Regions from separate parts of the Homo sapiens genome. Here regions 1, 2 and 4 are each linked to region 3. The links come from fine-mapping of genetic effects on gene expression. A gene starts in region 3. Each other region holds a variant in brackets. All regions are shown on one strand. Distances are from middle to middle. Region 1 overlaps TCF20 (transcription factor 20). Region 2 overlaps DESI1 (desumoylating isopeptidase 1). Region 3 holds the start of CYP2D6 (cytochrome P450 family 2 subfamily D member 6 (gene/pseudogene)). Region 4 holds the start of PHETA2 (PH domain containing endocytic trafficking adaptor 2).

Region 1 (8,102 bases), 91 kb before region 3:
CTCTTGGCTGTTTGAAATTATGCCTAATAATAGGCCTGCCGACTGTGGGTTGGAATTCAGCTGACTTTAGGCCTGATTCTCAAAAAATAATTTTGAGCTAGTGACCCTGTGTGCACACTTGCCTGGGCACTGTGGTGTCCAACAACCCTGTGTGTGGCATTGGCACCAGGTTTCCTGAAGTAGAGGTCCTGTCTGGCAGGCTCCTCCCTTCCCTCCTGCTTCTGACTTGTGGGGTCCCCTGTGCCTCTATTTCTTTCCCTTGGGCAGAGCAGCACTTTGCTGTCAGTAGGAACAGATAAAGCTCTGATACTGTTGAGATAGTTCAAGGGTTGTAATTTTTTTTTTTTTTTTTTTTTTGAGACGGAGTCTCGCTCTGTCGCCCAGGCCGGACTGCGGACTGCAGTGGCGCAATCTCGGCTCACTGCAAGCTCCGCCTCCCGGGTTCACGCCATTCTCCTGCCTCAGCCTCCCGAGTAGCTGGGACTACAGGCGCCCGCCACCGCGCCCGGCTAATTTTTTGTATTTTTAGTAGAGACGGGGTTTCACCTTGTTAGCCAGGATGGTCTCGATCTCCTGACCTCATGATCCACCCGCCTCGGCCTCCCAAAGTGCTGGGATTACAGGTGTGAGCCACCGCGCCCGGCCTAAGGGTTGTAATTTTTAAATGAGGTTAATGACATTTTGGCTGAGCACTGTGGCTCACCCTGTAATCGCAGCACTTTGGGAAGCCAAGACAGGTGGATCACTTGAGGTCAGGAGTTCAAGACCAGCCTGGCCAACATGGCGAAATGCTGTCTCTACTAAAAATACAAAAATTAGCCGGACGTGGTGGCAGGCACCTGTAATCTCAGCTACTTGGGAGGCTGAGGCAGGAGAATTGCTTGAACCTGGGAGGCAGAGGCTACAGTGAGCCAAGATTGCACCACTGCACTCCAGCAGTGCAGTGTAAGACTCTGTCTCAAAAAAAAAAAAAAAAAGTGATTATTTCCTACACAAAAATTAATGTAAATAGAAATGAAAAGGGGAAAAAATACTTCCACAACACTGCCATCTTGGATAGTCCAGAAGTTTTCCTTTTTTCTCCATTATTCCCTTTGGCCTGGGACTAAATGAATGCCTCATTTTCAGATAGTTATAATCATAGCACAGGTATAAGTTTACGTGAGCTGCTCTTTTCATCTGATACTATGTAATTTTCTATGGTGCTAGAGTCTTTGCAATTGTTTAAAATGATTATGTACTATTTCTTTGAGTGGATATACCATAATTTGTTTAATCAATTTTCAAATAGGTTGTTGCCAGTTTTTTCTTCTAATACATATTACTGGAGTGAATATGTTGGTATTTTGTTTTTTTGTTTGGTTGACTGTTTTATTACCAGTTTTCTTTTCCAAGAGTCATAATCATTTATGGTGCTTTTTTTTTTTTTTTTTTTTTTTTTTTGTACCAGCTTTAGCCTAACCTAACCAGATGGGATATCATCTTTTAAATTTTTTAGGAAATTTTTTTTTTGAGACAGAGTCTCGCTTGTTGCCCAGGCTGGAGTGCAGTGGTGCGATCTCACTGCAATCTCTGCCTCCCAGGTTCACGCCATTCTCCTGCCTCAGCCTCCTGAGTAGCTGGGACTACAGGTGCCTACCACCACGCCCGACTAATTTTTTTGTATTTTTAGTAGAGACGGGGTTTCACTGTGTTAGCCAGGATGGTCTCAATCTCCTGACCTCGTTATCCGCCCACCTCGGCCTCCCAAAGTGCTGGTATTACAGGCGTGAGCCACTGCGCCTGGCCAGGAAATGTAATAGTTACAAATTTATCCCCCTAGTTTTTGCCTGCATGTATTTGGTCATGATTCAAGGTGGATATTTTTTATGGCTTACATGGCTAATATGAGTTTTGACACCCAGAAAGCAATCTTTTTAGATATGCAGCATTCTTGTGGGTTTCTTTCCTTCTAGACAAGGAACTGACTTGCGAATTCTGAGTTGCTTTCAGACTCTTCTGATCTCCCAAGTCAGGGAGGAAGCCAGCACCTTCATTACACTTCATTTTATTCTGAAGTCCTATTACACTAAGATAACTTTTAGCCACTGAGAAAAATATAGGCTCTGCCCATGTGCAAACAGGACATAGAGTATGAAATATTAAGTCACTGAGCAGATCTTTATGCTTGATACACTTAGGAAGATCCCACATTTGCACATACACAAAACAAACGATACAGGTGTTACAGATATATCTAGGTACAAGCAGTCAACTAAATTCTAGCAAGATTCCTCAAGATTCCTTTCTAAAATGCTTCCCAATGTCACAGATTGGGAAATACAGACTGGGTTTTGCAGTGGGCATATTATATATCTTATCTCATTGTTTACCATGAATATTTTGCTTGTTTAACTTCTGAGTCTCCATTTACAAAAAGGATTACTAACATTTCTTAGATCATGGTAAGGATGAAATGCATTAACATTTGTGTAAAGCACCTGATAGTGTGTCACATGTGTGAGGCATGGCAATAATTGATAGCTACAGTTATTAGAGATCTGACCCAAGTGTGTGTCAGGATTTTCAAAAATATGCATTTGGATCTTCCTTGCCTAATTTTGTGGTACAGTGAAAGAAAGGGTTATGGGCTCTAGAATCAGAAGAATTGGAGTTACAGAATGTCAGCTCCAACTTGTCCTAGAGGAGTGACTTTTGGAAAATTTGGACTTTTGGAAAAAATTACATTAATTTTTCCCCCTCATTCATTAATTGAGTTACAGGTAAAACCACACAGTGACTAACATATATAGATTGCTAAATAAATGGCAATTATTTATTTATTTACTGGGACAGGTCTTACTGTAGCACCCAGGCTGGAGTGTAGTAGCGTGCAGCCTCGGCTCACTGCAACCTCTGCCTCCCAGGCTCAAGTGATCCTCCTGCCTCAGCCTCTGGAGTGGCTGGGACTACAGGCACAAGCCAGCACACCCAGCTAATTCTTTTGTATTTTTTGTGGAGACGGGGTCTTGTTATGTTGCCCATGCTGGTCTCCTGAGCTCAAACAGTCTGCCTGCCTCGGCCTCCCAAAGTGCTGGGATTACAGGTGTGAGCCACTGTGGCCGGCCAGCAATTTTTATTATATCAGTGGTACATACCTTAGATACTGGTTAAAGGTAAATACTTTAATTGGTTTGTTTTTACTAAGCAAGGTAAAGCCAACACATTCTCTGCTTAGAGGAAGATTTGTAGAGAAAATCACATGGATAACACATTTTAGGAGCTCTTAAGATACAGCAGGACACATTCTAAGAGCTCTTAAGAACCATATGATCTCATGTGGCAAGAAGGAATTTATGGGCCTGGGGATGCTTAAAAGGCTCCAAGTTGAGACCAAGGTGAGAGTGGGCCGATGGCACAAAGGGGGCTGAGCAGGCTTGTTTGAGAGGGTGGGGAGAAGCAGAAATTGTGTTGGGAAGATGTCACAGGGCTTCAGGGCCTATGGGGGGGTGTGATGGTGTCAAAATGGCAGTTAAGCAAAAGAAAGTACTGGGAAAGAGAACTTTTCAGGTGTTATTCTAGCCCAAGAAAGATGAAAATGACAGTGACGAGAATGGAATGGGAAAGGACAAATACAGGAAGGAGAGTAGTGTCATGATGAGGTAGCATGGTAAATACAGAGTCAAAGTGAAAGGTCAGTTTGGGGTTATTCTAAAGCTTCTTGCTTGGGATGATCATGGTTTTCTTTGAGAATAGGCAGTTGGGTCAGTTGAGGAAGAACAACCTTATCTTTGTCATTGAAAATGAGTTAGTTACTGCCTAATAATAAATGCATTTGTTGTCTTTTAGAAATGATTACAGTCACAAGTGACACTGTCCAGAGTCCTTAAGTACTGATCTGTCTAGAGGGCCAGAGGCCTTGCTCTGTCTCTGCATGGTCATTAAAACCTTTGCCATATGGGGCCGGGCGCGGTGGCTCATGCCTGTAATCCCAGCACTTTGGGAGGCTGAGGCGGGCGGATCATGAGGTCAGGAGATCGAGACCATCCTGGCTAACACGGTGAAACCCTGTCTCTACTAAAAATACAAAAAATCAGCCAGGCACGGTGGTGGGCGCCTGTAGTCCCAGCTACTTGGGAGGCTGAGGCAGGAGAATGACGTGAACCCGGGAGGCGGAGCTTGCAGTGAGCCGAGATATCGCCACTGCACTCCAGCCTGGGCAACAGAACGAGACTCCGTCTCAAAAAAAAAAAAAAAAACCCTTTGCCATATGGTTAATAAGCCCTATAGACCCCACATCCTTGGCATTCAGAGCCCAGCACCTGCCTGCAACTCTCTTCATAGTATCTCATCCAATTTTGGACTTTGGGCATTTCTTACTTTCTTGCAACTTGGCTATACATTTTGTCTGACATTTCTAAGTGTTTTGTTGAGGGAGGATTTTTAGTCCCTGTTCTATGTCATAGTGCATGAAATAGAAGTCTCTCATTCCCCAAGTGGCAATAGTCTACTCTGAAATCCTAGGAATGAGAAGAACTCTTATCAGTCAGGGTCCCAGTAGAAAACAGATGGCACATTCAAACTGGGTAATTTAAGGAGTGTTTAATTGTATCATTCAGGGTTCATTCAGGAAAAGAGAAGTTGTCTATTCC[G/A]GTATGAATGGTTTTGATACAGGAATTAAGGCTTTACCCAACCCTGGAAGAACTGGAATTGGGAAGGTTCCTGATGATTTCATACTGAAGTGTCATAGTGAATGGTTCTCGTGAGCTCATGGGGAAGCCGCTATGAATCCACGTGTGCTGCATCTACCTCCAGGGAATATCATCAACCTCTACGTTTATTTTGCCTTCTAAATCTCTCTTGCACTTCTCATTGCAAACTCTAACCCAGAACCATGCTGCTAAAGGGTTCTGGAACGGAAGTTCTCAGCTTCTGATCTGCAGAGGAGAGCTTGGAAGGAGGGTGGTCACGATGCTGAGTTGACAACAATGCAGAAGATTAATAAAGGGACTGGAAAGGGTGAGCAGGGTTTGGGGAAGCCAACAGGAAAGTGAAGTCTTCTGTGCTAGCAGTAGCAGGGAGTTGTTACCTACTGCCTTCTAGACCTGAAGGGCAGAGGATGAAGTGGTTCCTGGAGTTTGGAGAAAGTGGCTATATGTTGAGGTTGCCCGATGGAGCTGCAGCCATTGGTGGAGGGTCTCAGCCAGCCTCAGTAACCTCGGGGTGGGAGCCAGGAGAGTAAGTTCCTCTCACTTTCCTCCTCTCCTGCCTCTTACCAGCCAAACTGGGTCAGAAGGCAAGGGTGGTGGGGCCTGTCAGTTGTCCTTCCATTGTCCGTTCTAGGGCATAGAGTAGGGTGGAGATGGGTGAGGAGAGGCTGTGGGGGCAAACAGGGAATATCCCTTACACAGGCTATAACTAGATGCATCATTGTCAATGTCTTGAGGATTTAAAGGCAAAGAAGGAGAATAAGCAGAAAATCATGACAGAGGATGAAAAAATTAGCTGGGGCCAGGCACAATGGCTGAATTCTAGCACTTTGGGAGGTTGAAACAGCAGGATGGCTTGAGCCCAGGAGTTTGAGACCAGCCTGGACAGCACAGTGAGACTCTGTCTCTATTTTTAAGAAATTATAAAAATTAGCCATAGTCCCAATTATTTTTTAAAAATTAGCCAGGGGTCCCATGCCTGTGGTCCCAGCTACTTGGGAGGCTGAGGCAGGAGGATTGCCTGAGCTGGGAGTTGAGGCCGCAGTGAGCCTGTGGTCATGCCACTGCACTCCAGCCTGGGCAACAGAGTGAGACTCTCTTTCCAAAAAAGAGAATGGATTGGGAAGTGGGATGTTGTTGGACATATGGAGGAAGAAGGACAGAGAAAGCCAATGTTGGTTTTCTATAAGAGGGCAAGGTCATCAGCCCTCTAATAGGATGGGGAGAACAAGTCTGCAGCTGGTTATGAGTGAGTTTGTGAGGTCGGCACATGGACTCTGGAATGTTTAGGCACAGAGTTCTGGACCTCACTAATACACCTCCACAGCCCTTCTGAAACTGTTCAGAAAGTTAGGAATATAGGAGAAAAACAGGAAAGGGAGAGTCATTATGGATGGGAAGTACATCGGTAGGCCTCTTTTTTATTTATTTATTGAGACGGAATCTCGCTTTGTTGCCCAGGCTGGAGGGCAGTGGCGCGATCTCTGCTCACTGCAACCTCTGCCTCCGAGGCTCAGGCGATCCTCCTGCCTCAGCCCCCCGAGGTGCTGGGACTACAGGCACGCATCACCATGCCTGGCTAATTTTTGTATTTTTTATAAAGATAGGGTTTCGCCATGTTGCCCAGGCTGGTCTCGAACTCCTGAGCCCAAGTGATCTGCCCGCCTTGACCTCCCAAAGTTCAGGGATTACAGGGGTGAGCCACTGTGCCCAGCCTCTTTTTTAGAGTGTGTATGCAAGTTCCTTAGGTGACTTATTCCTTTGAGGTATCAGATTTTCCTTACTATTTGTATTCATTTAAACAAAGGAATTCAGGCACTTATTATTACTAATCACAGTGCTTTAAAACTGACTACACTGATGCTTTTTTTAAGATGATGGGATAAAATTGGAATTATCTCTATTAGCTTTTTTTTTTTTTTTTTTTTTTTTTTGAGACAGGGTTACTGTCACCCAGGGTGGAGCACATTGGCACATTCATAGCTCGTTGCAGCCTCGAACTCCTGAGTTCAAGCAATCGTCCTACCTCAGCCTCTTGAGCAGCTGGGACTGTAGGCACACCTCATGACACTGTGCATTTAAAATTTTTTTTAACCCAGGCTGGTCTTGAACTCCTGACCTCAAGCGATCCTCACACCTCAGCCTCCCAAAACACTGGGATTACAGGTGTGAGCCACCACACCCAGCCTATTACTTATTTTATAGCTCCAGGTTTACATTTTCTGTCGTTGGTATATGCTAGTTGGTTTTCTTAATTGGTTTACTTGGCATTCCTAAAAAAGATAAACCTGGGCAACCACCTTCTCCTACTCAGGTGCTTCATGTATACTAAGAATATTTAGCATGACTGGAACCCTGCAGGAGGTATTTGGCCTTGGATTTTTTTTTTTTCTTTTTCATAAAGTAGAACCATAACAATAGGGAAAGGGGTATCATACAGGACAGGGAATCTGCAGGGGAAGGCTGAGAACAGACCTAAGAAGGAGTCCTTCCTGTATCTGTTTTCCCTGTCTGGAGATAGGGCAGCCTCAGGCCTGATACCCTGATGTTTAAAGTGGCCTTTAGCTCTTGGTGGCTCCTATTTAGGAAGAATATGGAGCAAGTGGCAACATTGTTTATACACTCAGATCTTCAGAAGCCTGATTTTATTTCCAGAAGGATTAATTAAACAACATGTAACATAGCTTTTTATAGAGAATATCTCTTGAGAAGGCTTTTCATTAGTTTAAACTGCTAGCTTTAATGTTTTTGTTCAATTTAGCCCCCATTCAGCCTTGTTTTATCTAGAGAAGGCCACTGGCACTGAGGAGTAGAGCAGGAGCACATCACAAGGGGAAAAAATTAATACTCATGTAGACAGAATTGCTCTTGATAGTTCTAAGAATGATGGGGAGCGGGTGAAGAGCCAGCTGGAACAGTATGGAGGTCCTTATAAGAGGGTGGCAGTGAAGGGACAGATTTATTGTGGGTGGCTACCCACTTTCAAGGCCAAACTGACAGGACAACTGGTATTTTTTACTGACCATGTGGAAGACCCTCTGGGCAATGTAATGTTAAAAACATGTCCTGCCCCCAGCCCTGCTGCCTAGGAGCTTTGTGAACTCTGCTTCTGTTTCCTCATCTGTAAAAGGAGCGTGCTAGTGTTGTGAGGATTAAATGAGTTAGTGTATGTGAAGTGCTGGAACAGTGTCAAGCAGCATCATCACCATTTGAATAGCTATTACCTACTGCCCTGCAGATTCACTGGAACAAAGCAACAGAGGCATTTTGAATAGGATGAGAAGTTTCCTTTAGATTCTGACATTATTTGCACATGAATGTTTAGCGATTGTTTTGGGTCACATGACTATATAATCAAGCTTAAGGAAGTAGACCCTTGTCTAGCTGTTTTAGACTTACGATATTTCAAGATAT
Region 2 (8,102 bases), 520 kb after region 3:
GCCTCCCAACGTGCTGGGATTACAGGCGTCAGCCACCATGCCCAGCCCACATCAGTCAAGTTTTAACTAAACTTCTTGGAATGGAGCCATTTAGTTGTTTGTTTTTTTATCATAGTGAGGAATCAGATATTTCCTATACCCCACGTAAAACCTCCCCCTTTACACTGGGTATTTTTTATCCTATTACCTAATAATTATTGGGCAGCTGAAAGGAGCCTTAGGAGTCATTATTTCATTCATTCAGCAGATGTTTATTGAGCGTCTGCTCTATGCTAGTCAACGTGTTAAGGTAAATGAGGTTGATATAATGAACAAAGATGTTCTTTGCCATCATGGAGCTATCTAATGGGGGAGACATTAAAAATAAATACATAAATAATTAGTTACAAATTGCATAAGTGCCTTCTGCACAGGAAGCACACTGGGTGCTGTGATAGAAAATAACAAGAGAGACCTTTTTTTTTTTTTTAGACGAGTCTTGCTCTGTTGCCCAGGCTGGAGTGCAGTGGGGTGATCTCAGCTCACTGCAACCTCTGCCTCCCAGGTTCAAGTGATTCTCCTGCCTCAGCCTCCAGAGTAGCTGGGATTACAGGCGCATGCCACCACACCTGGCTGATTTTTATATTTTTAGTAGAGACAGGGTTTCACCATGTTTGCCAGGCTGGTCTTGAACTCCTGACCTCAAGTGATCCGCCCGCCTCAGCCTCCCAAAGTGCTAGGATTACAGGCATGAGCCACTGCACCCAGTGAAGAGACCTATTTTAAATAAGGGTATCAAGGGTAGTGACTTTGAAAGTGGGAATTTAGGATGAGGAAGAAGTAGCCACAGGAGGGTAGTAAGGGAGTAACAGTGTTCCAGGTAGGAGAAAGATCAACCTGCCAAAGCCCTGAGACAGGAAAGAGTCTGGCCTGATACTGGAACTGAAAGAAGGCTTTTGTGGAGTGTAGTGGGTGAAGGGGAAAGTGCTGTAACTGAAGATGGAGTAATAGACCTGCCCCCTTCCCACTCCCCGCCCTTTTATATAGATGTAAAGTCCTGGAATGCCTCAGCCAAACATGGGAACATCACCCATTCATTGGGCACATCAGATTCTGATCTGAGGAAATCACCTTGTGTGCTAATCTACTTCTGTCTTCTCTACCTCTTTTTTCCATATTGCTTTTATACCTTTTGCAAAATTAATGAAGAAAGAATTAGCAAAGCTAGTAGTCATTACTTTCTAGAGTTGAACACTTAAGGAAAATAGGCATGGTCTTACTGATTCATCCCATTCAGACAACACAAATCTTGAAGTTGGGTATGTCCCAGTGCTATAAGTAGCCATATATTGATTTCCCATTCCTAAATACATTTGAACCTTTAAAAAATCAATTTGTTTCCTGATTTTTATGATGAATTCTAGAAGTATATTAATAGCCACTATTTATTGAGAGCTTACCATGTGTCAGACCCTTTTTTTCTGAGTACTTTGCGTGCATTATAATCCTCACCACAACTTTGTGAGATAAGTCCTGTTATTGCCTCCATTTTCTTGATTGAAGAACCTGAGAAGTAGAGTGTTAAGGAATTTGCCCCAGGTCCCAGAGCTACTAGGTGGTAGAGCTGGGTTATGAACACAGGCAGTCTGACTTCCAGAGCTCGCGTTCTCTGTCATTTTGAGATACCACCTCTGTGTAATACGTTCCTTTAAAATTGAAGTAAAGTAGATGCCTTCCTGAAGTTTGTAAAGGCATCCTTTGCCAAATGTTTCAAGTTTGGATGAGAAAAAAAGCTGGGTTCAATGTGTATGTGCCACTTACAATCTAGATTTATGATCATGCCTCTTAGTCTCCATTTTCCCAAATTAAATCCATGTGATCTCATCTGCAGTACCCTCTCAGGCTTCAGTTATGTCAGTTCTCCAATGGGAGACCTCATCTAGCTCTGTCGCAGTTCAGGATTAGACTAGATAAAGCCCAAGGTAATTCCCCTTTCCTGAAGCAATGTAAATTCCGTAGTTTTAGCCTGTCCTGTTTTCAGCCTCCTGGAATTGCCTCAAGTGAAGGCATTACTGTTCTATAGCTTTTCATTCACTATGAAAAATGGTCCCAAAATTATCTTCAGCATTCTAATTGAGCAGATAGCCTCATTGCACCTTTTTTCATAGTCACCAATTGCCTAAAATAATTAGCTATTATAAGTGTCCTTCAGTTCCTCCTCTTAATAATTTTGGCTGCTCTTTAAGTTTCTTGACCTCTTTTTGTGCCACAGTACATGCAGAAGTGTGTGTGTGTGTGTGTGTGTGTGTGTGTGTGTGTGTGTGTTTTAATTGTGGTAAGAAGTACTTCATATTTGTTTATTATTTTCTGATCAGAAGTTTCGTGTACATGCATCACGTTTATTTTTCTTTACAAGCCCATTTCAAAACTGTTTTCAGACTTAAAGATTTGGAGACATAGAATATATAAATTGCTTGGCAGAATGAATTCTAATGAATATTAGAGATTTTACACTATACTCAATTCTTTACTTCATTTTGTAGTACAAATAGTAATGAAATAAAAGATATGACGTGAACTCTGTCCTCCAGGAATTTTTCTTTTTTTGAGGCAGAGTTTCACTCTTGTTGCCCAGGCTGGAGTGTAATGACACGATCTCGGCTCACTGCAACCTCCGCCTCCTGGGTTCAGGCAGTTCTCCTGCCTCAGCCTCCCAAGGAGCTGGGATTACAGACATGTGCCACCATGTCCAGCTAATTTTTCTATTTTTAATAGAGACTGGGTTCCACCATGTTGGTCAGGCTGGTCTCAAACTCCTGATCTCAGGCGATCCACCCACCTTAGCTTCCCAAAATGCTGAACAAACCCCCCTCCCAAAGTAAGGCATGAGTCACCATGCCCAGCCCAGGAGTTTTTCTTAAAATATTATTTTCCTTTAAATAATGAATGTACACATATAACATTTGATAACAATATAAAACAGATTATGATTAGGTGCCAAAGTGAGTGAGTGGTGCATGAACTATGTTAGGCTTTGAAATAAGAGAGGCCATGGTGAGCTGAGCATGTCAGAGAGGCTTTGGCAAGAGCCTGGAGCTCCTGGAGGGCAAGGACTCTGTCCCCTTCCTATATGTCCCCAGTGGCCTGTTGGAGCAGGTGTTCAGTAAGTATTGATTATAGAAATGATTGAGACTTGAACTTAAGCTTGAAGATTAAGTAAAATTTATTCAAATCTGAGAGAGGTTTTTTCTGTTTTAATGCCATCTATTGTGCTTTGTTTTTGATTTTTGTTCACTGTGTGAACTGTTTTATACTCATCTAATGAATTAATTTAATAATCATTCAATTTCTTTAAGGCAAAATGGAAAGGAATATGGCTTACAAGGCCCTGCGTGATTCTGCTTTTTTAAATTTTCTTTTTTTTTTTGAGACAGAGTCTTGTTGTGTGCCCAGGCTGGAGTGCAGTGGCGCGTGCCTCCCAGGTTCATGCCATTCTCCTGCCTCAGCCTGCTGAGTAGCTGGGATTACAGGCGCCCGCCACCGTGCCTGGCTAATTTTTTTTTTTTTTTTTTTTTTTTAATTTTTAGTAGAGACGGGGTTTCACCGTGTTAGCCGGGATGGTCTCGATCTCCTGACCTCGTGATCCTCCCGCCTCGGCCTCCCGAAGTGCTGGGATTACAGGCTTGAGCCACCGCGCCCGGCCTGTATTTTTTTTTAGAAGAGACGGGGTTTCACCATGTTAGCCAGGATGGACTTGATCTCCTGACCTCGTGATCCGCCCGCCTCAGCCTCCAAAAGTGCTGGGATTACAGGCGTGAGCCACTGCATGTGGCCTGACCAGTGGTTTTCAAATGCTCTTTAGCTGTGAAACTCTTCCTTGAAATGAAATCTTCTGCAGATATGCATGTGGAAAACAGGTGAAAAGGAACTTTTTTGTTAAAAAAAAAAAAAAGAAGAAGAAAACAAGGTGGGGTGAGGTGGCTTATGCCTGTAATCCCAGCACTCTGGGAGGCCAAGGCGGGTGGATCACCTGAGGTCAGGAGTTTAAGACCAGCCTGGCCAAGATAGTGAAACCCCATCTCTACTAAAAATACAAAAATTAACTGGGCACGGTGGCGCATGCCTGTAATCCCAGCTACTCGGGAAGCTGAGGCAGGAGAATCGCTTGAACTCGGAGGGCAGAGGTTGCAGTGAGCCGAGATCATGCCACTGCACTTCAGCCTGGGTGATAGAGTGAGACTCCATCTCAAAAAAAAAAAAGGATGTAGGCCGGGCACAGTAGCTCACACCTATAATCCCAGCTACTTGGGAGGCTGAGGCAGAAGAATCACTTGAACCCCGGAGACGGAGGTTGCAGTGAGCCGAGATCACGCCACTGCACTCCAGCCTGGGAAACAAAGTGAGACTCTGTCTCAAAAGGAAAAAAGAAAGGATGTAAATTCACTCAATTCATTTTTAATGTTATTGTTGGCTCCAAGTGTTTGGTGGATGAATGAATAAGTGAAAGAATGAACAGGCTGGGTGCAGTGGTTAACCCCTGTAATCCCTGCACTTTGGGAGACCGAGGCGGGTAGATCACAAGGTCAGGAGTTTGAGACCAGCCTGGCCAGCATGGAGAAACCCCGTCTCTACTAAAAATACAAAAAATTAGCCGGGCATGGTGGCGAGCTCCTGTAATCCCAGCTACTCGGGAGGCTGAGGCAGGAGAATTGCTTGAACCCGGGAGGCGGGGGTTGTAGTGAGCCATGATTGCACCGCTGCACCCCAGCCTGGACAACAGAGCGAGACTCC[G/A]TCTTAAAAAAAAAAAGAAAGAATGAATAAATAAGGGGATCTTTTTTCTATAGTCCCTATCTCCACTCTATGAATGGATGAGATCCTAAGTGTACCTTGATGCAGTTGAATAGGAAGTGTGGCGTGTAGCTTACAGGCAAATTCAGTGATGATACAAAGGATATAAAGGAGAATAAAGTAGGGTTTGTATCCTGCAACTTTTGAGTTGTTTTTCAGGTGTGAAATAACTGAGGCCCCTCTTCAAAAATCTGTTTAGTAGGAATGGGTTTGAGCTGATGATACATCCATACCTGCCAGCTGTACTCCTGAGTCAGTGAGCATGCGCATCTGAGAAGACAGCAGTAGACTGGGAGTGCAGTATGCCAGGGTGGCAGAGTCATTGCAATAACAAGCCAGGCAGCCCAGATTGGGGTTAGGAACTTTGTCCTCAATAGCACTGTGTGTCAACCAACAAAGCTAACTAAACAGAACAGCTCATCTCAACAGATGTTCATGTCACATCTCAGGACCAGGTCCTTTGCTAGGTGCTGGAGTTATAAAGATACATAAGAAACTGTCCTGGTTACTGAGGCAACTGTAGTCTAACTGGGGAGAAGGACACGTGAATAGTTTCAATACCAGGGTACTATGAGAACAACTATAAAACTTTCAAATTATAAACCCTAGAAGAAATGAGTTAGCCTTTATTGGGCATGTATTATGTCCCAGACCCTGTGCTACGCATGTGTCATGTATCGTCTCTTTTAATCCTGGAAATGTTATGAGGCAGGCAGTGTTATTATGCTTTTTTTTACAGAATAGGAAACTATAGTTTAAACAGTGCGTCCAATAGAACTTTCTGCAGTGATGGAAATGTTCTAGATCTGCACTGTCCAGTAAGTAAACACTAGTCACATGTGGCTATTGAATACCTAAAATGTGGTTAGTGGAACTGAGGGACTGAATTTGTGCATTTATTTAACTTAAATAGCCACATGTGGTCAGTGGTCACCATATTGGACAGCTCAGGCTTAGTGTTCTCAGCCTCTGCAGTGTTCTCTGTGATCTGGTCCTCCATTACCTCTGGTCATCTTCTACTTCCCCTCCTCACCCATTCTAACTTCACTGGCCTCCTTACAGGCCTTCAGATAAACCTGGCATGTCATTGCCCCTGCATCCCTCTTTCCCTTGCCTCCTTTAAATCTTGGCTCAAAGCTGGGCCTGGTGGCTCACGCCTGGAGGTGGGAGGATCACTTGAGCCCAGTAGTTCAAGTCCAGGCTTGACAACATAGGGAGACGCCGTCTCAAAAAAAAAAAAAAAAAAGTAGGCCTGGGTGGTACACATATAGTCTCAGCAACTGGGAAGCTGAAGTGGGAGGATCACTTGAGCCTGGGAGGTCAAGGCTGCAGTGAGCTTTGATCGCGTTACTGCACTCCACCCTGAGTAGCAGAGCAAGACCCTGTCTCAAAAAAAAAAAAAAAATCTTCACTCAAATATCACATTCTCAAAGAGGCCCACCCTGATCATCCCTGAAACTCCCTTAACCTACTCTTTTTTTTTTTTTTCTTTTTTTGAGACAAGAGTTTTGTTCTTGTCGCCCAGGCTGGAGTGCAGTGGTGCAATCGCAGCTCACTGCAACACCTCCCGGGTTCAAGTGATTCTTCTGTCTCAGCCTCCCGAGTAGCTAGAATTACAGGTGTGTGCCACCATGCCTGGCTAATTTTTGTACTTTTAGTAGAGATGGGGTTTCACCATGTTGGCCAGGCTGGTCTCGAACTCCTGACCTCAGGTGATCCGCCCGCCTCTGCCTCCCAAAGCGCTCGGATTACAGGCGTGAGCCACTACGCCCAGACCCCCTTAACCTACTCTTGTTCGTTCTATACCATTCACTATTGCTAACATGTTATGACTTATTATCATCATTATTATTATTGACTGTCCCCTCCCCCCACCTAGTAAGTGTCATGAAGGAGGTTTTTGTTTACTGATGTATCCTTAGTGCCAAGGATAGTGCCTGGAAGGTAGTAGTCACTCAATAAACCATTAGTTCACCGTTTAAGCCAGTAGGATTCACACCCAACCTGTCTACACCAGAACCTGTGTTCTTATTCACTATATTGTACTTCCTCCTTGTAAGCGTAGCATTCCTCACAAAGTAAATGAGAAAAGCTTCATTTGAAAGGAACAGGGGCCAGGCGCGGTAGCTCACGCCTGTAATCCCAGCACTTTGGGAGGCCGAGGCGGGCGGATCACGAGGTCAGGAGTTTAAGACCAGCCTGGCCAACATGGTGAAACCCCATATCTACTAAAAATAGAAAAATTAGCCAGGCGTGGTGGTGAGCGCCTGTAGTCCCAGCTACTTAGGAGGCTGAGGCAGGAGAATCACTTGAACCTGGGAGGCGGAGGTTACAGTCAGCCAAGATCACACCATCGTACTCCAGCCTGGGCAACAGAGTGAGACTGTCTCAAAAAAAAAAAAAAAAAAAAAGAAGGAACAGGTAAGAGAAAGCAGGTATCCTTAATTTCTCCAGTTTCACTGAACTATTAAATGTCTTCACGTAAATAAACAAATTGCAGCCATTTAAACAGCTGATTTATAAATGACAGTTCAGAAGGGCACATCAGCTCTATTTAAAATGCAGTGTTAGGCCACATAGAGTGGCTCACACCTGTAATCCCAGTACTTTGGGAGGCTGAGGAGGGCAGATCTCCTGAGGTCAGGAGTTCGAGACCAGCCTGGGCAACATGGTGAAACCCAATCTCTACTAAAAATACAGAAATTAGCTGGGCATGGTGGCGCACACCTGTAATCCCAGCCTGTACTTGGGAGTCTGAGGCACCAGAATTGCTTGAGCCCAGGAGGCGGAGGTTGCAGTGAGCCAAGATCGTGCCACTGCACTCCAACCTAGGCAATAGAGTGAGACTCTGTCTCAAAAAAAGGAATGTTAGTCTCCCCATTTTACATATAGTAAACAGGAAAGAGGAGATTTAGTATCTTATAGCCCAGTGGAACCCAGGGTTTGAAGATGCTCGTCCTAAATGGATTACCACTCCCCTTTGGCATCCAGTCTGGTTCTCATCAACCACTGTGAAATTTCACCTCAGTTTGGATAAGGTCAGAACCTGCCTCACATTCTTTAGGGTGCTATCCCCAGAAACCCCTGGCTAGGATCCCTCTATCCACTTGTGGTCTTTTTTTTTTTTTTGAGACAGAGTTTCGCTCTTTTCACCCAGGCTGGAGTACAATGGCGCCATCTCAGCTCGTCGCAACCTCCGCCTCCTGGGTTCAAGTGATTCTTCTGCCTCAGCCTCCCAAGTAGCTGGGATTACAGGCGCCTGCCACCACGCCCAG
Region 3 (8,086 bases):
CACGTGACTGACCTGAGGTGCTGTGCAGACAGCAGGTGACGGCTAAGGGAAAGTTGAGCACTGCCTAGCCGAGCACTGAAGCCACGCCCGGCACACAGAGAGAGACCCACTCGGCAAAGACTTCGCTTCCAGGCACCTAAGGAACTCTCTGACCAGTCATTAGCTGACCACTGCCGTAACTGAAGAGCGGCTTCAGTGGCCACAGCTCGCAGGGAATGGAGACATTAATGCTTAGTCAGAATTAGTTCAGAAAAGTCACCCAGCAAAGAAACAGCTCCAACAGGCAACAACAACAACACATCCTTGGCAGGGAAGAGAATCTGACTTCCGGAGTTGCCACATTATCGCCCGTGAAATGTCCAGGTTTTAACAAATTATGAGACATGGAAAGGAAACCGAAAGGACGACCCAGACACGGGAAAAGTCACCAATGGGACCAGCCCGATGCTGCAATTGCTAGACAAAGACGTTCAGTCAGCTCATTTAAATATGTTCAAAGACCTAAAACATGCTGCATCTGAGGCTGCACCGGCTGGAACCTGCTGATCTCGGAAGCTAAGCATGGTCAGGCCTGGCTAGTACTTCAAAGGGAGAAACCACGTGTAGGCCTGGTGCAGTGGCTCACACCTATAATCCTAGCACTCTGGGAAGCTGAGGCCCGTGGATTGCTTGAGCCCAGGAGTTTGAGAGCAGCTTGGGAAATGTGGTGAGACCCCCATCTCTACAAAAAAATTTAAAAAATTAGCTGGCTGCCTATGGTCCCAGCCTCTCAGGATGCTGAGGTAGGAGGATCACTTCAGCCCAGGAAGTTGAGGCTGCAGTGAGCCATGACTGCATCACTGCACTCCAGCTTGGGCGACAGAGAGACCCTCTCCCAAGAAAAAGAAAAGAACCATGTCAAAAGAACTAACGAAAGTGTGGGAACAATGTCTCACCAATTAGAGAATATCAATAATGGGATGAACCTTATAAAAAGGGGCTGGGCATGGTGGCTCATGCCTATAATCCCAGCACTTTGGGAGGCTGAGGCGGGCATATCATGAGGTCAAGAGATTGAGACCAGCCTGGCCAACATGGTGAAACCCCGTCTCTACTTAAAATACAAAAATTAGCCGGGCGTGGTGGCACGTGCCTGTAATCCCAGCTACTCGGGAGGCTGAGGCAGGAGAATCGCTTGAACCCGAGAGGCAGAGATTGCAGTGAGCCGAGATTGCACCACTGCACTACAGCCTGGGTGACAGAGCGATACTCCAAAAAACAAAACAAAACAAAAAACAAAAAAAAAGTTTAAAAAGGAACCAAATAAAAATTCTGGAGTTGTAGGGTAAAATAAATGAAAATTCATCCCAGGGGCCCAAGAGCAGATTGGAACAATTGGAAGAAAGAGCCTGTGACTATGGAGAGAGGCCACCTGAGGTAGTACCCTCTGAGGAACAGGAACAAGCATGAAGAGCAATGCACAGAGATCCAGAGACCTGGAGACGCCGTCAAGCTTTCCGACATACACGCAATGGGAGTCCCAGGAAAGAAGACAGGGAGAAAGGAGTAAAGGAATAGTTGAAGAATTAATGGCTGAAAAACCTCCCAAATCTGATGAAAAATATTAATCTGTACATCCAAAAAGCTCATCAAACTCCAAGTAGGGTAAACTCAAAGAGATCTTCAGCCATACGCATCATCATAATCACTGTCAAAAGACAGATTTTTCTTTTTTTAGAATTTTAAATGTACCTTTTAATTTGCTCCTGGGGCAAAGAGCCAGGACTGGTACTAGAGCAGTGTCTGGGATGAGAAGAATTTAATAAAATGGGATTAGGTCCAATGGTTGGGTTAGGGGAGGCAACCTGCTCGGGAGGATCAGCCTCAACCTATCCATGCAGCAGGGCCTCCACCTGTCCCTCTCCGTAGTCCCACACCTGGAACCCAGAGCCATCTGCCTCTTCCCAGATCATGGCCGACAGCACTCCACCAGACTGCGGCTGGAGCAGGCACAGGATTCACTTATTGAGGGCTGTGGCCTGGCACAGATCATAGCCTATACCCAGGGACAGTTGTGTCACTTCTGCCACCACCACATCCGCCTTCTGCAGCCACATCAAGTACCACTCATGGATGAGCCCGTCACCCCCAGCGGACTTATCAACCCCGCGTCCAGCTCCACAGCCGCCACGTGCTCGGTGAGCACTGGCTCCAAGCATGGCAGCTGCCATACAATCCACCTGTAGAGGGCCCGGTCCTCCTGTCCTCAGTGGATGATCCCGTAGAAGTCCAGAGCTCGGCAGCTGCCCTCCCACAAAAGACAGGATTTTGAAAGCAGCAAGAGAGAAGAGACGTATCAGGTAGTCACAGTGGCTCAGGCCTGTAATCCCAGCACTTTGGGAGGCCCAGGTGGGAGGATCGCTTCACCCCAGGAATTCAAGACCAGCCTGGACAACTTGGAAGAACCCGGTCTCTACAAAAAATACAAAATTAGCTGGGATTGGGTGCGGTGGCTCATGCCTATAATCCCAGCACTTTGGGAGCCTGAGGTGGGTGGATCACCTGAAGTCAGGAGTTCAAGACTAGCCTGGCCAACATGGTGAAACCCTATCTCTACTGAAAATACAAAAAGCTAGACGTGGTGGCACACACCTGTAATCCCAGCTACTTAGGAGGCTGAGGCAGGAGAATTGCTTGAAGCCTAGAGGTGAAGGTTGTAGTGAGCCGAGATTGCATCATTGCACAATGGAGGGGAGCCACCAGCCTGGGCAACAAGAGGAAATCTCCGTCTCCAAAAAAAAAAAAAAAAAAAAAAGAATTAGGCTGGGTGGTGCCTGTAGTCCCAGCTACTTGGGAGGCAGGGGGTCCACTTGATGTCGAGACTGCAGTGAGCCATGATCCTGCCACTGCACTCCGGCCTGGGCAACAGAGTGAGACCCTGTCTAAAGAAAAAAAAAATAAAGCAACATATCCTGAACAAAGGATCCTCCATAACGTTCCCACCAGATTTCTAATCAGAAACATGGAGGCCAGAAAGCAGTGGAGGAGGACGACCCTCAGGCAGCCCGGGAGGATGTTGTCACAGGCTGGGGCAAGGGCCTTCCGGCTACCAACTGGGAGCTCTGGGAACAGCCCTGTTGCAAACAAGAAGCCATAGCCCGGCCAGAGCCCAGGAATGTGGGCTGGGCTGGGAGCAGCCTCTGGACAGGAGTGGTCCCATCCAGGAAACCTCCGGCATGGCTGGGAAGTGGGGTACTTGGTGCCGGGTCTGTATGTGTGTGTGACTGGTGTGTGTGAGAGAGAATGTGTGCCCTAAGTGTCAGTGTGAGTCTGTGTATGTGTGAATATTGTCTTTGTGTGGGTGATTTTCTGCGTGTGTAATCGTGTCCCTGCAAGTGTGAACAAGTGGACAAGTGTCTGGGAGTGGACAAGAGATCTGTGCACCATCAGGTGTGTGCATAGCGTCTGTGCATGTCAAGAGTGCAAGGTGAAGTGAAGGGACCAGGCCCATGATGCCACTCATCATCAGGAGCTCTAAGGCCCCAGGTAAGTGCCAGTGACAGATAAGGGTGCTGAAGGTCACTCTGGAGTGGGCAGGTGGGGGTAGGGAAAGGGCAAGGCCATGTTCTGGAGGAGGGGTTGTGACTACATTAGGGTGTATGAGCCTAGCTGGGAGGTGGATGGCCGGGTCCACTGAAACCCTGGTTATCCCAGAAGGCTTTGCAGGCTTCAGGAGCTTGGAGTGGGGAGAGGGGGTGACTTCTCCGACCAGGCCCCTCCACCGGCCTACCCTGGGTAAGGGCCTGGAGCAGGAAGCAGGGGCAAGAACCTCTGGAGCAGCCCATACCCGCCCTGGCCTGACTCTGCCACTGGCAGCACAGTCAACACAGCAGGTTCACTCACAGCAGAGGGCAAAGGCCATCATCAGCTCCCTTTATAAGGGAAGGGTCACGCGCTCGGTGTGCTGAGAGTGTCCTGCCTGGTCCTCTGTGCCTGGTGGGGTGGGGGTGCCAGGTGTGTCCAGAGGAGCCCATTTGGTAGTGAGGCAGGTATGGGGCTAGAAGCACTGGTGCCCCTGGCCGTGATAGTGGCCATCTTCCTGCTCCTGGTGGACCTGATGCACCGGCGCCAACGCTGGGCTGCACGCTACCCACCAGGCCCCCTGCCACTGCCCGGGCTGGGCAACCTGCTGCATGTGGACTTCCAGAACACACCATACTGCTTCGACCAGGTGAGGGAGGAGGTCCTGGAGGGCGGCAGAGGTGCTGAGGCTCCCCTACCAGAAGCAAACATGGATGGTGGGTGAAACCACAGGCTGGACCAGAAGCCAGGCTGAGAAGGGGAAGCAGGTTTGGGGGACGTCCTGGAGAAGGGCATTTATACATGGCATGAAGGACTGGATTTTCCAAAGGCCAAGGAAGAGTAGGGCAAGGGCCTGGAGGTGGAGCTGGACTTGGCAGTGGGCATGCAAGCCCATTGGGCAACATATGTTATGGAGTACAAAGTCCCTTCTGCTGACACCAGAAGGAAAGGCCTTGGGAATGGAAGATGAGTTAGTCCTGAGTGCCGTTTAAATCACGAAATCGAGGATGAAGGGGGTGCAGTGACCCGGTTCAAACCTTTTGCACTGTGGGTCCTCGGGCCTCACTGCTCACCGGCATGGACCATCATCTGGGAATGGGATGCTAACTGGGGCCTCTCGGCAATTTTGGTGACTCTTGCAAGGTCATACCTGGGTGACGCATCCAAACTGAGTTCCTCCATCACAGAAGGTGTGACCCCCACCCCCGCCCCACGATCAGGAGGCTGGGTCTCCTCCTTCCACCTGCTCACTCCTGGTAGCCCCGGGGGTCGTCCAAGGTTCAAATAGGACTAGGACCTGTAGTCTGGGGTGATCCTGGCTTGACAAGAGGCCCTGACCCTCCCTCTGCAGTTGCGGCGCCGCTTCGGGGACGTGTTCAGCCTGCAGCTGGCCTGGACGCCGGTGGTCGTGCTCAATGGGCTGGCGGCCGTGCGCGAGGCGCTGGTGACCCACGGCGAGGACACCGCCGACCGCCCGCCTGTGCCCATCACCCAGATCCTGGGTTTCGGGCCGCGTTCCCAAGGCAAGCAGCGGTGGGGACAGAGACAGATTTCCGTGGGACCCGGGTGGGTGATGACCGTAGTCCGAGCTGGGCAGAGAGGGCGCGGGGTCGTGGACATGAAACAGGCCAGCGAGTGGGGACAGCGGGCCAAGAAACCACCTGCACTAGGGAGGTGTGAGCATGGGGACGAGGGCGGGGCTTGTGACGAGTGGGCGGGGCCACTGCCGAGACCTGGCAGGAGCCCAATGGGTGAGGCTGGCGCATTTCCCAGCTGGAATCCGGTGTCGAAGTGGGGGGCGGGGACCGCACCTGTGCTGTAAGCTCAGTGTGGGTGGCGCGGGGCCCGCGGGGTCTTCCCTGAGTGCAAAGGCGGTCAGGGTGGGCAGAGACGAGGTGGGGCAAAGCCCTGCCCCAGCCAAGGGAGCAAGGTGGATGCACAAAGAGTGGGCCCTGTGACCAGCTGGACAGAGCCAGGGACTGCGGGAGACCAGGGGGAGCATAGGGTTGGAGTGGGTGGTGGATGGTGGGGCTAATGCCTTCATGGCCACGCGCACGTGCCCGTCCCACCCCCAGGGGTGTTCCTGGCGCGCTATGGGCCCGCGTGGCGCGAGCAGAGGCGCTTCTCCGTGTCCACCTTGCGCAACTTGGGCCTGGGCAAGAAGTCGCTGGAGCAGTGGGTGACCGAGGAGGCCGCCTGCCTTTGTGCCGCCTTCGCCAACCACTCCGGTGGGTGATGGGCAGAAGGGCACAAAGCGGGAACTGGGAAGGCGGGGGACGGGGAAGGCGACCCCTTACCCGCATCTCCCACCCCCAGGACGCCCCTTTCGCCCCAACGGTCTCTTGGACAAAGCCGTGAGCAACGTGATCGCCTCCCTCACCTGCGGGCGCCGCTTCGAGTACGACGACCCTCGCTTCCTCAGGCTGCTGGACCTAGCTCAGGAGGGACTGAAGGAGGAGTCGGGCTTTCTGCGCGAGGTGCGGAGCGAGAGACCGAGGAGTCTCTGCAGGGCGAGCTCCCGAGAGGTGCCGGGGCTGGACTGGGGCCTCGGAAGAGCAGGATTTGCATAGATGGGTTTGGGAAAGGACATTCCAGGAGACCCCACTGTAAGAAGGGCCTGGAGGAGGAGGGGACATCTCAGACATGGTCGTGGGAGAGGTGTGCCCGGGTCAGGGGGCACCAGGAGAGGCCAAGGACTCTGTACCTCCTATCCACGTCAGAGATTTCGATTTTAGGTTTCTCCTCTGGGCAAGGAGAGAGGGTGGAGGCTGGCACTTGGGGAGGGACTTGGTGAGGTCAGTGGTAAGGACAGGCAGGCCCTGGGTCTACCTGGAGATGGCTGGGGCCTGAGACTTGTCCAGGTGAACGCAGAGCACAGGAGGGATTGAGACCCCGTTCTGTCTGGTGTAGGTGCTGAATGCTGTCCCCGTCCTCCTGCATATCCCAGCGCTGGCTGGCAAGGTCCTACGCTTCCAAAAGGCTTTCCTGACCCAGCTGGATGAGCTGCTAACTGAGCACAGGATGACCTGGGACCCAGCCCAGCCCCCCCGAGACCTGACTGAGGCCTTCCTGGCAGAGATGGAGAAGGTGAGAGTGGCTGCCACGGTGGGGGGCAAGGGTGGTGGGTTGAGCGTCCCAGGAGGAATGAGGGGAGGCTGGGCAAAAGGTTGGACCAGTGCATCACCCGGCGAGCCGCATCTGGGCTGACAGGTGCAGAATTGGAGGTCATTTGGGGGCTACCCCGTTCTGTCCCGAGTATGCTCTCGGCCCTGCTCAGGCCAAGGGGAACCCTGAGAGCAGCTTCAATGATGAGAACCTGCGCATAGTGGTGGCTGACCTGTTCTCTGCCGGGATGGTGACCACCTCGACCACGCTGGCCTGGGGCCTCCTGCTCATGATCCTACATCCGGATGTGCAGCGTGAGCCCATCTGGGAAACAGTGCAGGGGCCGAGGGAGGAAGGGTACAGGCGGGGGCCCATGAACTTTGCTGGGACACCCGGGGCTCCAAGCACAGGCTTGACCAGGATCCTGTAAGCCTGACCTCCTCCAACATAGGAGGCAAGAAGGAGTGTCAGGGCCGGACCCCCTGGGTGCTGACCCATTGTGGGGACGCATGTCTGTCCAGGCCGTGTCCAACAGGAGATCGACGACGTGATAGGGCAGGTGCGGCGACCAGAGATGGGTGACCAGGCTCACATGCCCTACACCACTGCCGTGATTCATGAGGTGCAGCGCTTTGGGGACATCGTCCCCCTGGGTGTGACCCATATGACATCCCGTGACATCGAAGTACAGGGCTTCCGCATCCCTAAGGTAGGCCTGGCGCCCTCCTCACCCCAGCTCAGCACCAGCACCTGGTGATAGCCCCAGCATGGCTACTGCCAGGTGGGCCCACTCTAGGAACCCTGGCCACCTAGTCCTCAATGCCACCACACTGACTGTCCCCACTTGGGTGGGGGGTCCAGAGTATAGGCAGGGCTGGCCTGTCCATCCAGAGCCCCCGTCTAGTGGGGAGACAAACCAGGACCTGCCAGAATGTTGGAGGACCCAACGCCTGCAGGGAGAGGGGGCAGTGTGGGTGCCTCTGAGAGGTGTGACTGCGCCCTGCTGTGGGGTCGGAGAGGGTACTGTGGAGCTTCTCGGGCGCAGGACTAGTTGACAGAGTCCAGCTGTGTGCCAGGCAGTGTGTGTCCCCCGTGTGTTTGGTGGCAGGGGTCCCAGCATCCTAGAGTCCAGTCCCCACTCTCACCCTGCATCTCCTGCCCAGGGAACGACACTCATCACCAACCTGTCATCGGTGCTGAAGGATGAGGCCGTCTGGGAGAAGCCCTTCCGCTTCCACCCCGAACACTTCCTGGATGCCCAGGGCCACTTTGTGAAGCCGGAGGCCTTCCTGCCTTTCTCAGCAGGTGCCTGTGGGGAGCCCGGCTCCCTGTCCCCTTCCGTGGAGTCTTGCAGGGGTATCACCCAGGAGCCAGGCTCACTGACGCCCCTCCCCTCCCCACAGGCCGCCGTGCATGCCTC
Region 4 (8,102 bases), 56 kb after region 3:
GGCGCATCTCCGCCTCTTAGGGGTAAGAGGCTCAGAGCCTACCCCTTAGGCCTAGTTGGATGCGGGTCGGTCCTGCCCAAGGCCCCAGTGAGGGGAGCCGAGGCTAGGAAGGGGCAAGTTTTATGTGTTTGGGAGGGGGTGTCTCTTCCCGGCCTCTGCGTCTTCCCCCTGGAGCGTCAGTATGGTCAGGCTCTGGTGACCCAGCCGCTTTGCCTCCCGACTTTGGGAAGAGTAGCAAGGAGAGGTCCTGGCAAGTACACCCTGGGTGACAAACGGCTATGAGAGTTCCCAGGTGATTTCTCGAGCAGCTTCAGTTTACCGGAGCCCAGCCAGGAGAGAGAATTTTAGCACAGGAAACGCAATCCCGTGTCCAAGCTCCTAGAATACCCAGGACTGAGAACCAAAGCAACAGACTTTTCCCAGGGAGCCACACTGCCTCCCCACCTCTTCTTTAACCCCTCACTTGGCAGCTCCAGGAGTTGGCTGCTGAAGACAGAGTACAGGAGGGCATTTCGTTGACGTAAAAAAGCTACAAGCCCCTTCCGGGGCAAGGTCCAGCACCATCTGTTAACAGGGCAGCCAGGGAGAAAGGATGGGACCCCAGCACTCTGAGCAGAATAAATCTCTCTTCACTGGCCGAAGACCCTCTGCCTCAAAGGGCCCTACCCAGACTGCTGAGTGAGGATCCCATCCCCAATCTTCCCACCCCTCTCAGGAAGAGCTGGGTCCCAGAAACTCCTATGACACAATAAATCCACTTTCTCTGACAGTGTCAGAGCTTCAAGCCGATACTGCAGCCTACCTCGGATTTAAGTGCACAGGAGACTCCCCAGGTTGGAAATTATGGCTCTAGAGCCCGGTGTGTAGGCCAAAGGTATGGCAAGCCTGTGACAGTCTCGGGTGACATTCCCCACTTCCTTCATTTCATTAACATCCCCTGGGAGGGGGCAGTCAGGCCAGTGCAGTCAGGAGATTGGGGTCTTGCTCTGTGGCTGCTAAGTCTCCTTCCTTCTCTGGACCTCAGGAAATAAAGAGGATGGAAGGAATGGTCCCGCAGTCCCTTCCAGACACACGGGTGGATCTCGAACCTGGAGAATGCCTAAATAGCAGGAAGGAGAGAACCCATGTCCCCTCCCAAAACGCAACCTTGGAAATGGGTAAACATTTAACTCCTGAAAAAGAACTGGCCCTGGTTTCCTGACTCAAAGGGCCCAGACTTAGGGCCTATCCTGTTCCTCACATTTTGAGTGGCTCCCCTGGGCCCTCTTCTGCCAACACTGCCGCAGCTCCACGATCTCCTGGCCATACCAGTCATGCAGGGTAGAGAAGCAGGAGGTCTCAGGGGACACAGGGCTCTGCCCCTTGCCTAGGAGGAGGCTGGCAGGGCCCTGCAGCTCCCACTCAGCCAACCCCCACCCTGCAGACCTGCTGCCCGCTTCTTCAACCAAGCCCACAGGGCTGCTGTCCTTGGAGAGGCAGTGGCCATTCTCCAGGCCCGCAGCTCGGTGGTTAGGAGCCTGGGGCTTACAGCGGCTGGCAACAGACTTCCAGGATGAGCGGCGTTGCAAAGCCAGGCTCTGGCGTGCGTCCTGCAACTGGCTCTCCAACTCGCGTACCACCAGGCGCATGTAGCCAAAGCTTGCCCGGGACAGCACCTTCACCCAGGCCTCCTGGGCCGCCGGCCCTTCTGCGGCCAGCAGGTGTGGGCGCACTCCAGGGGCATCAAAGCAGATGGCAAAGGCAAACTCCTCGGGCACGGGAGCCTCGGCCAGTTCCACTGTGCAGCCTTCCAGCACCACCAGGCTCAGTGGGGCCCGGCCCTCGCGACTCTCAAAGGAGAATAGCAGGTTGCCCTTGAGGACAAACCAGCATCTTCGGCCAGTGCCACTGGGGGTCGGTGGGGTCCCTGGGCCCCCCCAGGTGCGCAGGAAGCCCATGTGGTCCGCTGGGGAGTCGCTGAGTGCATAGTGGGCTACACTCCTCTCGTTCAGCTTCATGGCTCCCACGGGAACTGTGAGGCAAGAGAGATGGCAGCAGATCAGAGAGGGAGGTGGTTCCGTGCCCTCCTGGGGAACAGCACCGGCTCCAGAGGCAACCTGGACCCCAGCCCTGGGACTCCTACTCGCTTGCTGTGTCCCTAAGGTCCCTAAAGTCTCCTGAGAAGTGGGCTCGTCTTTCCTTCCTTTTCTCTCAAAGGGATGTCGTGAGGATCATGCAAAAAAAACTGGACACTGGCGGACTTCGAGAAAAGAATAACGAGATTGCATCAGACAGGAGGCATGGCAGGACCTGGGCACGGCTTTCTAAAATCCAAAGAAACAGGCCCCAGCTGAGCTGAAATGGACCCCAGACCCATCGAAACCACTGTGCTTAAACTATCCCCTCATCTGGGGTCCTCTCAACTCCAACTCTGAGGCCAAGCTTCCAGGGTTTCCATGACCCTCCTGGGCCTCTACTGGCCTCTTATTTGCATATAGCTGTTGAATCTTATTGACCTACAGGCAGAAGCTGAGGCACAAATATAACTTTAAAGAGTTTACTTGAGCGAGAGTAAGGATAACTGCCCAGAACAAACTTCTAAGTTGCCGTGGGGTGTGCTGCGTTGGGCCTTTCCTACAGGTTTTTATAGGCAGAAGGGGGCAAGGATGACAAAGTTGTTTGGCAGGAATTCTCCTTGGTTTATAGAAATAACATTGATTGGTGGGGTGCGGTGGCTCACATCTGTAATCCCAGCACTTTGGGAGGCCGAGGTGGGTGGATCACCTGAGCTCAGGAGTTGGAGACCAGCCTGGCCAACATGGTGAAACCCCGTCTCTAAATACAAAAATTAGCCAGGCACGGTGGTGGGTGCCTGTAATCCCAGCTACTCGGGAGGCTGAGGCAGGAGAATTGCTTGATCCCAGGAGGCAGAGGTTGCAGTGAGCCAAGATTGTGCCATTGCACTCCACCTGGGTGACAAGAGAGAAACTCCATCTCAAAAAAAAAAAAAGAAATAACATTGATTAGTGATTGGCTATACATTGTTGAACTATAGGGTATGAACTATAGGGTGTCCAGTGTACAGCATTTTATGGCTACTTGGTGTCACTCTAGAGCCACATAGCAAGTGGCTTCAAGAGGTAATTCTTGATCCTTTTGTAGTTCATGAGCGTGATGATTGGGTGTTCACATGCATGTGTGAGCTGTGCCACCCTCGAACCTTGTTACCATGTAGGCACATTACCGATCTGACATGAAGAAAAGAAAAGAAAAAAAAAGAAAAAGAGATAATTCTTTAGCTCAAGGGAGGAGTAAGACTTGACAGCTGTTGCGTTTCAGTATGTCTGGGCCTGATTATTTAAAGGGGCTCCAATTCCTCAGATAAAACATTATTTTTCTGTCTCAATCTGCAGCCTTCAGGGCCAGATGGGGAGCTACTCTGTACACAAGAGTGTGGCACAAACCCAGGGTACAGCTGAGAAGAGCTAACCACAGCCATTGAATGTGGGTGCCCCCAGCATCATGAACGGCACTTAGTCCAGCTGTCCTTACTCATGGAAAACCAAGGCCCAGCGCA[G/T]TGAGGGGAACTTGCCCAAGGTTACATGGCCAATGAGACGCAGAGCTTCGTCTCCCAAATCCCTCACACTGTACCCACTTACCAGCAGGGCTCACTGGGGGAGGGCAGGGACCTCTTGTCTGGCCACACAGCTCAGCCCTTCGACCACCTGGTTCCCAGGGAACCTGCAAAACAATTCTCAAGCCCAGTCAGCTTATCCCAAAGAATGAGAACTCCTACTCCACCTTCGAGGCCTAATGAAACCACAGCCTCCACCGGGAAGCCTTCCCTGACCCCTGAGAATCCCCCCACCCATCCACCCAGCCAGGAACCCCTGAGCAGCTTAAGGGGATGGGTCCCCTTGTCTTGACCTTTACTCTTCAGACCCCAGCTCCCTGCCTGAGTCCAGGTCAGAGCTACACATGCCCTCATGGTTCCTAGCTTTTCCCTTCTAGCACTTCCTGGCTTTAACTGAAGTCACCTAATCTGGGAGGCCTTCCATGATCACCATATCATCTAAGGTGGCCCTGACCACCAAGGTGGCCTGACCTAAGGTCACCTGACCAGTAGACCCCCCCATTTCTGGTTTGTTTCCTTCATCCCACGACGATGTCATATGTGTTTACAGCACTGTTCCCAGCCCCAGAATGTCTAGGGTGGGGCTCAGCTAAGTTCCCAGGAGAACCCCAATACCCAGCACCGTGCAGGGCTCAGAGAGGCCCTCAGGAGGGATCTGTTGAATTAATGGGGATACATCAGTGGACAAATCGAAGTCTCCCGCCCTCCTGGAGCCTACATTCCCACAGGGGGAAACACACTGTAGGCAAACAAAATAAATACTAATAAATTAATGAAAGAATAATTAGTGAAATAAGAGATAACATAAGGACCGGTAATGCTAAGGGTTATGGAGAAAAACAAGCCAGGCCCCTGGATGGGGAGAGACGCCATTCCAGTAGGGGGGGCCCAGGAAGGGGGAAGAGATCACAGATGTTTGCCAGAGGAGTGGCCTCACTGGGGGTCCTGGGCCCAGCACTGGGGCACAGGGAGGGGGTGGGCAGCCCGTGGGGCCATGACCCCTCCCCTCCCCCGCGTCTGGGGAAGGGCGCTCCCTCCTCTCCACCAGTAGGGGGGCCAGGCCACCGCACACCGGGCCTCCCGCCCGCCCCACCGTCTTCCTGGATTCTTTTGTTGGAGGAGAGGCGGGCTGGGGGTGCGGGACCGCCGGGCCAGTGGCCACTGCGGGGAGCCCCAACCCGGTTGTCGCCCTAAACAGAGGTCACCTCGGTCAGGGTCTCCCTGGCTGCCGCCTTGGTTTCCCCGTCCTCGCGTCGGGGCTGTTCGCCGCCACTTCCCCGCGGCCACACCTTCCCTGGGGCCACCTCCTCCCGGAGCCCGCCGGGCCCACTCTCACCTCCCGCCGCCGATCGCACCGAAGCCCAAGAGGGCGATCCCAGCTCGAGATCCCGCGCCTCCGCCTGGGCTGCAACGTGGCCGCGGGAGCCGGGAGACCCCGCCCGGGAGGCTGGAGTTAACGCCCCTCCCCGCCCAGTATTCGCCAGGCCCGGGATCTCCGAGGCCGCCTCGAGGTCTGCCAGGGCGGGAAACTGAGGCCCGAGAGGGCGGTGAACTGCCCGAGCCACAGCACTGGTCGGTGCGGGCGGCCTCGAACCCAGAGGCCCCCCTCGGACGGTCCGCGGGCCTCGGACCCAGCCCACCGTCCGGAAAACTCTGTCCATCTCTTCCTCTCTGGTCCCCCTCTCCCTGCTCGGCCCACTTTCCCGGCAGAGCCAAACCAGGGATGTCTCTGGGTACCTCCCTAGGGTGGGCTCCTACACAGCCCGCGAGGGCCAGCCAAGCTTTGTTGGCCACCCACCGGGCCACCGGGGTCGGCTGATTTCTGCCTCTGGAAATTACCCATTTCTGCTTCCCTGGCCTGAAACCCACCGGCAGCCCCCAGGCTCTGCACTAGTGGGTGGAGGAGGAGGCCTGCGGTGAAGGTCGCAGGAATGCACAACCAAACCCAAGAGACTGGAACTTCTGGAAGGCCCTGGAAGCCGGAGGTGTCCTCAAACATCTGCCCATGAACCTGGCTCCCGCCTCAGAGCCTTTGCCCTTGCAGTTCCTGCAGCCTAGAATGGCCTTCCTTCCCACCCCCAACCGCAGCTCCACTCCTCAGGACGCCTCTGGACACAGATTTGAGTCTCTGCTCAGTGGTCTCCTCTGGGACCATTGTAAAGCAACCTGCCCTGCAGTCTCTGTCCCATCCCTGGGGTGTTATTTCCATCAGAGCACTCACTGCTAGAGTAAACTTTCCTATGCTCATGCTTTTATTTTCTTGTTTATTGCCTGTCTCCCCTACTAAATTTTATTCAGTTAATACTGTACACCATAATAAATGTGTTAGAAGATAATAAGTGGCATGGAAAAACAGAGGAGGGTAAGGGAGATGGGAAATTGTGGGAGTAGGGAGGTTGCAATTGCAAATAGAGTGGTCAGGGTAGGCCTCACTGAGAAAGTAACATTGGACAAATACTTGAAGGAAATGAGGGAGCCAGCCATGCCAATTCCAGGCAGAGGGAACAGTCAGCGCAGTGGCCCTCAGGCCTGTTGTGCTTGAGGACCTGCAAGAAGGCCAGTGAGGCTGGGAGGCCTGGGGAGGGGCAGACAGTAGGAGGTGGGGGTAGAAGGGGTGGGATGGGGCTCTGTAAATCTGGGAGGGCTGTTACTCTAGACAGGGCTGTGAGGAGGGACCTGAGCGATTTCAAGGCATACTCTGGCTTCTGTGGTGAGAATCAATGTCAGTGGAGGCTGGAGACCAGTGAGGAGCCTGCTGCCACTATCCAGGCGAGATGTCACAAACGCGGCAAGAGCGGGGAGGGAGAGGCAGCCAGAATTAGAATGGCTGTTGAAGGTAGAGAACACAGGATTTGCTGAGGAGTTGGATGTGGGGAGTGAGGGAAAGAGCAGGCAGGACTGCACAGTTTTGGCTTGAGCACCTAGGAGAGTTGTCATTATCTGAGATGTGGAAAGTGGCCGGTGCTTGGTCTGGGTTATGTTTGAGACACCCAGTGGCCATCTGAGTGAAGGTGCTGTTGGGGCTCAGAAAGCGATGCCTAAAAATATGGCACTTGGGCATGCTGAGTACTTTGAACCAAAGGACACTGGAAGAGCCTCAGAAGCAAAGTATCTCTCTGACCTTCTCCTGCCCCCCTTCTTTCTCCTGTTTTTCTCCTGCAAGGCAGGCCATAGAAACTAAAAATCCTCCTCCCTAAGGTGAGTTATAGCAACTACAAATATTGGCTGGGCACAGTGGCTCATGCCTGTAATCCCAGCACTTTGGGAGGCTGAGGTGGGCGGATCACGAGGTCAAGAGATCAAGACCATCCTGGCCAACATGGTGAAACCCCATCTCTACTAAAAATACAAAAATTAGCTGGGCATGGTGGCGTGCGCCTGTAGTCCCAACTACTTGGGAGGCTGAGGCAGGAGAATCGCTTGAACCTGGGCGGCGGAGGTTGCAGTGAGCAGAGATCGCGCCACTGCACTCCAGCCTGGTGACAGAGGGAGACTCTGTCTCAAAAGAAAAAAAAAAAGAAAAAAAAGTAACTACAAATATTACTGGAAACATCCCCCACCTTTCTGTGTCGGGCCTGGCCATAAAGGAATTCTCTGATCTACCTTGCCTGATACTAGGTCATAAGACTCTCATTCCAGAAGGGGTCCTGCCCTCCTCCCAGCAGGAGGGAATGCCACACAGAGAGAACAAGAAGAATCCGAATCTGAACAGACATTGCTGGGTTTCCACACTCAGCTATTAACATTAAATCATTCCCTTTTGTCTAATCGCGTTTATACACAGTTGTCCATTCCTTATTCCTTTTTTTTTTTTTCTGTTGCCCGGGCTGGAGTACAGTGACACAATCACAGCTCACTGCAACCTCGACCTCCTGGACTCAAGCAATCCTCCCACCTCAGCCTCCCGAGTAGCTGGGACCACAGGCACCTGCCTGGCTTTTTAATTTTTTGTAGAGACAGGGTCTCACTATGTTGCCCAGACTGTCCTTAAATGTCTGGCCTCAAGCGATCCCCCTGCCTCAGCCTTCCAAAGTGCTGGGATTACAGGCATGAGCCACCAGACCCGGCCAGGGCTGTCCATTCTTCATCAAACCGAGACATAAAAATAAAGATTTCCCTGAGTATTTGTGTCTTCATTCCTGAAGGCTCTCAAGTCACATAAAACATTGAGTAAATCAATCTATTATGCTTTTCTCTTGCTAACCTATATTTTATTTGTAGGAGTGTCCGCTGTGACCTTTGGGATGAGTAAGGGAAAATATCACACCTTTCTGCCCCTACAATGCCCAGAACAAAGCATTTGGCACTTAGCAGTTTCTCAATAAATACTTGATGAATGAATGAAGAAGGAAGTAGCCCAGTCTGTGCGAGTAGTCCCTGAGCGTCAGGCGGGGAAGGAGAGCCGGCTGCCTTTGCGGGAGCTGTGACCGCCTGCTTTGGTGCCTCCCACGCACCCTCCTTGTAGAGACGATTAATCCCAGACTTCCAT

What was found.
Region 1: its variant is fine-mapped to the expression of CYP2D6 in whole blood (INTERVAL, PIP 0.96).
Region 2: its variant is fine-mapped to the expression of CYP2D6 in whole blood (TOPMed, PIP 0.98).
Region 4: its variant is fine-mapped to the expression of CYP2D6 in whole blood (TOPMed, PIP above 0.99).

Annotation. Positions count from the first base shown.
Region 1 is chr22:42,217,876-42,225,977 of GRCh38, reverse strand. All of the region lies in intron 1 of TCF20 (transcription factor 20), which reads left to right. Among named protein-coding and RNA genes, the nearest start is that of TCF20, 49 kb to the left of the region's middle. RefSeq lists an enhancer at 7,637-8,102. The variant G/A (reference allele first, on the strand shown) is at 4,632.
Region 2 is chr22:41,610,728-41,618,829 of GRCh38, reverse strand. All of the region lies in intron 1 of DESI1 (desumoylating isopeptidase 1), which reads left to right. Among named protein-coding and RNA genes, the nearest start is that of DESI1, 6.3 kb to the left of the region's middle. The variant G/A (reference allele first, on the strand shown) is at 4,771.
Region 3 is chr22:42,126,736-42,134,821 of GRCh38, reverse strand. CYP2D6 (cytochrome P450 family 2 subfamily D member 6 (gene/pseudogene)) reads left to right here and starts at 4,012. Exons shown (of 9, transcript NM_000106.6): 1 at 4,012-4,210; 2 at 4,913-5,084; 3 at 5,637-5,789; 4 at 5,878-6,038; 5 at 6,472-6,648; 6 at 6,839-6,980; 7 at 7,188-7,375; 8 at 7,830-7,971; 9 at 8,070-8,086. The coding sequence starts at 4,031. RefSeq lists a cis regulatory region at 2,716-2,727 and promoters at 2,421-3,953, 3,540-4,006.
Region 4 is chr22:42,071,189-42,079,290 of GRCh38, reverse strand. It overlaps PHETA2 (PH domain containing endocytic trafficking adaptor 2), which reads right to left and starts at 5,043. Exons shown (of 3, transcript NM_001002034.3): 1 at 4,950-5,043; 2 at 3,639-3,720; 3 at 1-2,011. The coding sequence starts at 1,997. The coding sequence ends at 1,218. It also overlaps the pseudogene SNORD13P1. RefSeq lists silencers at 1-166, 3,992-4,286, 4,526-4,905 and enhancers at 1,087-1,649, 4,260-4,990, 4,991-5,723. The variant G/T (reference allele first, on the strand shown) is at 3,557.